2 separate regions of the Homo sapiens genome follow, and region 2 is linked to region 1. The links come from fine-mapping of genetic effects on gene expression. A gene starts in region 1. The other region holds a variant in brackets. All regions are shown on one strand. Distances are from middle to middle.

Region 1 (4,396 bases):
TCCAGGAAATTGTCCTAGAATACATTAATAAGGTGAACCAGTCTTACCTTTGCCTTAGAGCCCAAGAGAAATTTCACCTAGATTTTGGCTATCAGCCTAACAATATCAGTAATCTACAATATTCAAGAGCCACAAACCAGCCAGCAAACTTCATATTAAGTATCTAGAAGACTAAGAAGCTGACTTTCTTAATGACTGTTACCTGCATGTTGTTAGAAGCCTGCCCCAATATTAAGTGACTTTTGCTACTCCCCTACACTGTGACCCATTGCTTTTTATATCAGGCAAGAATGTAATAAACACCAACCAGTACGAAGAAAGTACCTTCACCTTAGCAAGCAAACTTCTTAGGCTCCTTGAGCTTCAAACAAGCCAAAGCGATGTTCCCGCACAAAAGCTGACAGTGAATTAACCGATCAGAAAAAAATCCATTATCCTCACCACATAAAAACGTCCTTCTATCTAACCTAAAGTCACCTTTGTATTTCTCAATTCAAGATTGTCCTAGCAAATACAACACAGCAAATTCGTTAAAAGTACACATTCTGGAGTGTGTACTGGCTCCAGAATGTGCCAGCTGATTTGGAATCATAACTCGGCCCTTACTACTGTGTAATCCTGGCCAAGTTACTTCAATGTATCGCCTCGATTTCTCTCCGTAAATCCAGCATAATAATTCTAGCAACTCACAGAGTTGTTGTAGGGAATAAATGAGAAAATTGACATAAAGCGCTTAGAAGAGTGTTTGGCACTTAGCAAGTCCATCATAAACTCTACTTATTAACATCACTATGATGACTAAATAAATGTTAGAAGGGGTCACCTCTAGAGAGAAGAGAATGGGGAAAGAGAGAGGCACTCATAGATCATAACTGAACCTTTACACTTTTGTGAATTTTTCACAATGCGCATGTATTTCATAAGTAACTTGGACAATTTCTGATTTTTAAATATTATCCCAAGAAAATGGTGCTGGGCATCATAACTGATTGTGAAAATGTTCGTGCTGAGCAGCGGATCAGAAGTCGCTGCGGACATCTGGAACGCTCGAGAAATGCCTAGCTCCCCGTTGGTCAGGGCTCCGCGCGGGCCCGAGCTCTCCCGGGGCGCCCCGGGGCTGGAGGGGGCGCGGCGCGGGCCCCACTCTCGCCCGCTCCCGCCGCGCGCTGAGGTTCACTCACGGCCGGGGGATCAGAGGCAGCGACGGGGGCGGGGGAGGCCGCGAGGGGGGCGGGGAAGGCCGCGACGGGAGCGAGGCAGGGCTGGAGGTTCGGGGTCCGGCGAAGGCACTTACTTGAACCTGCCCTGGCAGTGCTGGCACTGGTCCCCCACCCAGCCCGGGTCGCAGAGGCAGGTGGAGTTGACACAGCGGCCCGAGAAGCAGGAGCCGGTCCTCTCGCACGGCTTGGACTGGGACACCTGCGCGTAGAGCGCCAGGTAGAGGAAGCCATAGCACAGCAGCCAGCTGTTCCCGTCCAGCAGCCAGGAGGAGGCGCCCCCGCCGCCGCCGCCCGCCGGCCGAGCCCTCCACACCCCCGGGGCCGCTGGCTGCGGGGTACCAGTGCGGGCCCGGCCCCCAGTCTCCATCTTCCCCGGCGCCCCTGCCCGGCGAGACTGCGCTCGCGGGCGCCGACAGGGATGCTGTTGAAGGGAATTCCGGCCGCAGAAAACCTCTCCGCCGCCGCTTCTCCTCCTCCTCACCGGCGCCCGTCCGAGTCCCGCTCCCCGGTCAGGAGGGACAGATCCCAACCGCCGTCGCCTCCGCTCGGCTGCCTCCAGTCGCACTCGGGCATCGCCACCCAGTCTCCCGACCTTGTCCTTAGCGGGCCGACCCCACAGCCGCGGCGTCCCGGACCCGGCCGGAGGCGGGGAGCGGGAGGCGCAGACTGCGCCCGGCGCTCCTGAGGGGACCTGACCGGCAGGAGGAGGGGACCCCGCGCGCGGCCCCGCCTCGCCCGCGGCCCGCGCCAACTGCCTCGGCTCCGAGCGCCGCGCGCCCAGGAGGGCGGGGGCCGAGCGGGCGCCCCGAAGTGGGCGCGCCCAACGTGGAAGGGGGCGATCAAGGAGGCGGCGGTCAGCCCCGCCTCGCCCGCCCGGCGGTCAAGGGCGCCCCGGCAGCCATTCTGTCTCCGGTGCCTCGAGCCGGCCGCAGCGGCAGCGCCGGGAGCCCACGATGCGTGGGGCCGCCCCCCGCCCTCGCGCGCGCCTACACTCCTCCCCACAGGCCCGGCGCCTTGGTCTCGCCCCGCCCCTGACAGGGACCGGGGACTCCCCCACGCGCGCGCGCCCACCCCGCCTGGCCCGCGCGCTGACTGGAGACAGGCCCCCCAGGTGTGGCCCGCGTGCCCTTCCCCCCGGCCGGTGCGGGCACCCCGGCCCCACCCGCACCCCGCGCCCCGGGAGCCCCACGAATGAGAGATCGACACAGGCTTCGCAGCTTCAGCAGAAAAGAAGTCCTTCCCGTCCGCCGTCTGCAGCTGCAAAAGTGCAACGCTTTTTCCCTAGCGCTTCCCCCTTCCTCCGCCCCATCCTCCTGCCTATTTCTTCTTTTTCTCTTAAGAGAGAAAAACTCCAACAACACACAAAGAGCTGAGCATGTGCAGCAGGCAAAAGCCTTAAAGGCACCGCAGTCCGACCACGTTGTGGGGTCAGCGAGGGCTGGGAGGGGCGGGGATTGGGGACTGCGAGAGGCGCGAGGCGGTCTCCGCGGAGGGACCTCCGAGGGGGAGCCATTGCTGCCTCGGGAATAACGAAGCCCGCGCCCCCAACAAAGAACTGCGAGGCTCCGAGCCCCGCGCTCTCCACCCCTTACAGACGCTGCCTCGAAACCGCACGTCTCTCCTTTTCTGCTTGTCAGTGCTCCCTCCTCCATCTGGGACGATATTCTGCCTTGAAAAATATTGCAGCATCGGGGCTTTTTTTCAGAAGAGCAGAAGTGATGCCCACAAAAGGGCCGTTTTCCTTCCTCAGCAGCACTTTTTCTTCTTCAGATGACTTTCCAAGATTGGCTGGCATATTCTGAGATTTTTGTTTTGTACTTTGGTGCCTTCTCTAAACAGTTGCCTTTTTATTTGACCCCCTTGAGAAAGGAAGCCAAACACACATTGCAGCCATATATCCTCGAGTTACAGCAATGTTGCTGGAGTCCCACCAAAGAACAGGCAGTATGAAAAAGAATTCAAAATCCACCAAAGGCACTTCTCACAGAAAAAAAAAAAAAGAAGAAAGAAAAGTTTGTTGTAACTACATAGTCAAAATATTATTGTTAGGATTCAACTCGTGTTTATTTCGCGTCAGTTCTTTTCATGTCTCTTATCCCCACTTGCAGATGAAATCCTCCATTAACCCCATTTTGCAGATGAGAAAGAGCAACTCAGAAAGGTTGAAATATTGGCCAATGGCAGGTTAGGAGTAATGAACTGAGCTTTAGACACGAGGCCTCTGACTGCTGTGCTTTTTTCACTGCTTCTATTAGCAGATGCTTTGTTCTTCCTTCGGTGAATAAAATATACGTGTTGGCTTGGTTTAAAAATACCTCAGCAGTGACTTAAGGAGGAAAAAATAAAAACAAAGATCCAGAAGGAGTTGGCTCCTTCGCAAGGAAAAGAGCAAAAGGAAAACCACGATTCTCGTTGGCATACAGAACAAATCATAATTTCCATAATTTCAGGGTTTTACCAGTATCAAAAATGTCCTTATCAAACCTAGAATTAGGATGCCCTCTTCTTCCCTTAACATCTTTTCCACATCAGGCTGCCCCTTAGAGACTTCTTGAAATGAGTGAAGAAGCAGAGGAGAGAACACTGCAGACACCAGTTAAAAGGAAGATCCTGTTCTGGATCACATCTTTTCATTTCAATGACTGTGAAATCCAGAAGAATTCTTTCTAGTGTCAGCCATGCATGAACACTGTCTGCTGCTTTTCCATTCTTCTCCATCTGCCAGCCAAAGTCAGCCGCATCTTTCTCACATCTAAGGTAGAGTCGCTTTCAGACGTGGGGAAAGTGGCCAAACTCTTAAAACCGTCAGTGAGTGTGAAGGTAATTCAAAGGGTGCGCTGTAGTCCCTTTGACGAGAGAGATCACAGCTCAGTCACATACTGACTGTAGCCTGTATTTGAGCAGAGCTTGCCCATTAAAAATATACTCATAAGTGGGAGTTGAACAATGAGAACACATGGACAGAGGGAGGGGAACATCACACACCAGGGCCTGTTGTGGGGTGGGGGGCTAGGGGAGAGATAGCATTAGGAGAAATACCTAATGTAGATGACGGGATGATGGGTGCAGCAAACCACCGTGGCACGTGTATACCTATGTAATAAACCTGCACGTTCTGCACATGTATCCCAGAACTTAAAGTATAATAATAATTTTAAAATACATATCTTTTAATT
Region 2 (4,396 bases), 140 kb after region 1:
CAGGTATTAGCTAGACATCTCTAGCAGCAAATCAGCTTCTGTTCTGTTTAGGAGAAAGAAAAATGTTTCTACTACAGAAAGTATACACACAATCATTTCCTTGGATCTCAACTGAGGTGTGATTTTGAAAGCTTGTGATTTAAACCTTCACAAACAAAATAGGGATATTACTGAGGATGAGAAAGAACACTTTTTAAAAAACCTATCAAACCAAAAACATGTGGCTTTGAATGTCTTCATTAAGAAGGAACAGTCCTTTTTTATAGTTCATAAGTATAAGCCCTTTAAAATTTTCAATACAGTATTTATGAAATATATGAAAATTAATAGCGTATATAGAAAAGGTACAAACTGGACTAGCCTCTGGAGAAAACTGATTAGAAATGCTGAAATCTTCAAGAGTTGGCTAAGTTTCATAGGAGCATTACTCAAGCCACACTTTAGAGTTCTCATAACTGGTTAACCTAAAAATGTTACTGTGTTCTTGGGGAAAGTTACTATCCTTTGACCACACCAAGAAGGGGAAACTTCATTCACTCCAATGATGACACTTGTTTAACTACTGGAGGGGGATACAAAGTTGCCTTCTGAGGAGATGCTGGCTTTGCCTGCAGGTGCCACTATGGTTTACCTGCACAGAGATATGGAGGTACCTTTATATCTGGACATGCTAGTTAGATTATTCAGGTTTTCATAACCTTTCCATCTGGTTTCTAAAGCATTTATAAAGTAACCAACTTTGATCAACAATATAGAAAACTAATAAAGACAGCACTCCAAAACCTCATCTGTTTTCTTCTGTTCCTTCTGTCTGTTCCTTCAAAGTACGACATCTGCTATCCAGCTTTTGCTGAATGACTGGCTCAAAGAAAGTGTAATTTAGGGAAGATATAAGAGGGGCTATTTGCCCTCCTCTAGGTAAGCAACGTTTTATACTTAGATCAACTTAGGCCAAAGGAACACATCAGCCTAACCTCTCAGAATTTTACCTAAACTGTATTTTATGTAGCTCCATTTCTACATCTGTTGTAAAACTATTTTTGAAAATCACCATCTATCTGTCATTTAATATCTCTTATTGTCAGAAACTTCTTTCTGGCTTTAATGTCCAAGGAAAGTCTGTCTCTCCCTTAAAGAACTGGCATGCTTTCTCTTTCTGATGAGTGCAATATTTTGCCTACATCACCAGCAATCACAGATAGCCATGAAAAAAAAAAAAGAAATTAACTGTATTCAAGAGTTCCAACAGAACTTGCCTGAGTAAAATTAATTTCAGGTGTCTACAGAACATGTGGCTAGAAAGCTCCAACAGGCCTGGACCTCAAGAGAGAGACTTGGGGATAAGTAAAATACTTGGGAATAGTAATAACAGTATTTAATGAGCAATTTCCATACACAAGGCACTGTACAAAAAGTTCACATGCTTTTCACACACATTATACACATAATCCTAAATGATCAGGCACAGGGAAAAAAAAAAAGACTTGAGAAATATGATCACTGGCAGAACAAAGCTCACTCCAAGGCAGGAGAGGAAGACAATGAGGAACACAGAGCAGTGGCTCTTTTCTTAACTTTTACCCTGATCTGAATGGGAGGAAATGCAAGAAATGATTTGGGTGGTCTGATTAGTGTCTAGTCTTCACAGATGGAAGCAAAATAATGTGATGGCCTAAAGATTTTACTTAAAAGCCAGAATTTCATCTAGTAAGTGACAGTAGTTGTATGAAGTGGCACCATGTTGAAGAAGATTCTAAGGGTGTTTCTTGATTCAGCAAGAAGAAATGTTAGGCCATGTTCAATTAGCAATATCTCCAATTACGACTGGCTAGGGAGAGAAGGCTGTTCTGTAATATGGCTGTAACAAGAACACTGAATATTTGCCATCCTAGAACTAAATATTTCTACTCTTGACGTAACTCCATCCTACACATACCAGAAGTCTAATTTTTCTAGTTGCACTGTGATGCAAATAAAAATTCATCTGTCAAAATAGGAAGTGAAGAAAAAGTGGACATTAGATCTGGGCCAAGTTAGGGGGCTGCAGCCACATTTTTTTTTTTAATGAAATAGAAGGAAAAGTATCAAGAATACATCATACATAGGGTTAGAGTTGGATAAAGTTTGGATGTCTGCCCCCTCCAAATCTCATGTTGAAATATAATCCCCAGTGTTGGAGGTGGGGCATGGTGGGAATTGTCTGGGTTATGAGGGCGGATCCTGCATTAATTGCTTGGTGCCCTCCCTGCAATGAGTTCACGCGAGATCTGGCTGTTTAAAAGAGCCTGGCACCTCCGCCTCTCTCTCTGTCACTCCCTCTCTCACCATGCGACATGGCCACAAGTGTAAGCTTCCAGAGGCCCTCACCAGAAGCAGATACCAGTACCTTGTTTCTTGTACAGACTTCAGAACCATGAGCCAAATGAACCTCTTTTCTTTATAAATTACCCAGCCTCGACTACTCCTTTACAGCAACACAAACAGACTAACACAAAGTTGTTTGATAAAATTTTTCCTTTTCATAAATGTATGTATCTATATGGTCATTACATAAAATATGTTTCTTACTATGGGTCTTAGTCAAAAAAATTTTGAAAGTCACTAGATAAGATGATCTCTAAGATTCCTTCTAGTGCTTTTAAAAAAAGAAAAAATATTTATTAACAGTTTTTAACTACTTTTTATTAAAAAATAATCTTCAACATTAAACTCTTAATGATTTAGTTCTTTTAACA[G/T]GTACATAAAATTAAAAGGATAAGAAATATAAATAGCTAACAAGACAACGATGCCTATTTTTGAAATACCTAAGAACTAGGTTTCTGTAACAAGACGTGCCTGTGGTATTCTATTTATGTTACAGTCATTTTGAGGATCAGTGATTTCACTGTATGACATTCAGCTTTCGTAGCTGAACAGCAAATTGGCTGTTACAAAATTTATACCAGAGTCAATGATGTATTTACATTTTCAGTCATAATATTTCTGAAAATATGCCTGAAATTTACAAGTAAAATCTTTCAGTAATATATAGTGTGCTGTGTTTGTGGTTTGGGGGAGGAGGGGTGAACAACGAATATCTCAATGAACTCAACATATTTTATCTTGGTAAAAAAACCCAAACAAATTCCTTAACGTAAATATATCTTTTTTATTATTAACATAAAAGTGACTTGTTTATTGTATAGATTTTAGAAAATACCAAATAATGTGAAAAAAAAATCATCCATAATCCCATATTAAAGTAAACATTGTTCATCTTTGGGAGTTCAGAAACAAATATTAAACAACTGGCAAAAACCAGTATCAGAAACAGATTCTAAACTCTATGTGTCAGTAAGCACAGTATAAAAATTTACTGAGAAACTGTCAAACACCTTCATTCTAATGCAATTTTTATACTCTGTAATTTTTCAACACCAATATTTTGAAGATTACAGAGCAAGCCACACTGAAGCTTTTCATTTATCAGAGGCACTAAGATTCCTTCCAATTGAATGGCACAGATTTTTATGCCAGTTGATAACCAAAATGAGACATCACATGCAATATGTTCTCCGAGGCTTTTTAAAATCAATCGATCAATCAATCAATCAATCTATGTATCTATGTATCTATCTACCTACCTACCTACCTACCTATCTACCTATCTACCTACCTACCTACCTACCTTACTTATTATTTATTGAGATGGAGTCATCTCACTCTGTCACCCACGCTGGCGTGCAATGGCGTGATCTTGGCTCACTGCAACCTCCGCCTCCTGGGTTCAAGTGATTCTCCTGCCTCAGTCTACCGAGTAGCTGGTATTAAAGGTGTATAGCACCACGCCTGGATACTTTTTTTGGTATTTTTAACAGAGATGGGTTTCACCATGTTGGCCAGGCTGGTCTCGAAATCCTGACCTCAAGTGATCTGCCCGCCTCGGCCTTCCAAAGTATTAGGATTACAGGCATGAGACACCACGCTCGGTCAGGGCTTTTATTTTAATACTTAAACCACTACTACGTCAAGTGTTTTCCACAGGCCAGTTATCTATAATAAGTTCAGAAAATGAGATTGCGTAGAAACTTATTTAGCAATTTTACATTGCCGTATTTTAATTATATTTTACAAAAGTCATCAATCAGTCTGCAATGAACTGGAAATTGTTTTTTAAATGGTCTTTGACAACAGATTTTTTTAAAGAAACAAAAATCATTTTATCAACAATTTATATCACATTTAGAGCAAGAGTTTTAAAACAAAGTTTATTCCAGGAACATAATGAAATTTTTCGCTACCTCTTGGCATACTAAGCTTCCTTCCACGTGCATTTTCATTGACCCTTAGTCCCAGCACTTATAACCAGCACCTAATTACTCATTAGGATACAGATATTACTCTCTCTTTGAGAGAT

Which allele goes with the higher level. Alleles are on the strand shown, and positions count from the first base shown. SD is a standard deviation of normalised expression in the study named.
For the expression in sigmoid colon of the gene that starts at base 1,973 in region 1, allele T in region 2 goes with a lower level than allele G (moderate effect, 0.44 SD a copy in GTEx).

What was found. PIP is the estimated chance that this variant, and not a neighbour inherited with it, causes the effect. A credible set is the group of variants that fine-mapping cannot tell apart.
Region 2: its variant is the best candidate, but not a certain one, in a credible set for the expression of ATRNL1 in sigmoid colon (GTEx, PIP 0.69).

What each region holds. Positions count from the first base shown.
Region 1 is chr10:115,090,942-115,095,337 of GRCh38, reverse strand. It overlaps ATRNL1 (attractin like 1), which reads right to left and starts at 1,973. Exons shown (of 29, transcript NM_207303.4): 1 at 1,295-1,973. The coding sequence starts at 1,587. RefSeq lists silencers at 1,403-1,682, 1,773-1,902, 1,933-2,442.
Region 2 is chr10:114,951,732-114,956,127 of GRCh38, reverse strand. The region is part of intron 3 of TRUB1 (TruB pseudouridine synthase family member 1); the gene reads right to left. Among named protein-coding and RNA genes, the nearest start is that of TRUB1, 16 kb to the right of the region's middle. RefSeq lists a silencer at 2,812-2,861. The variant G/T (reference allele first, on the strand shown) is at 2,736.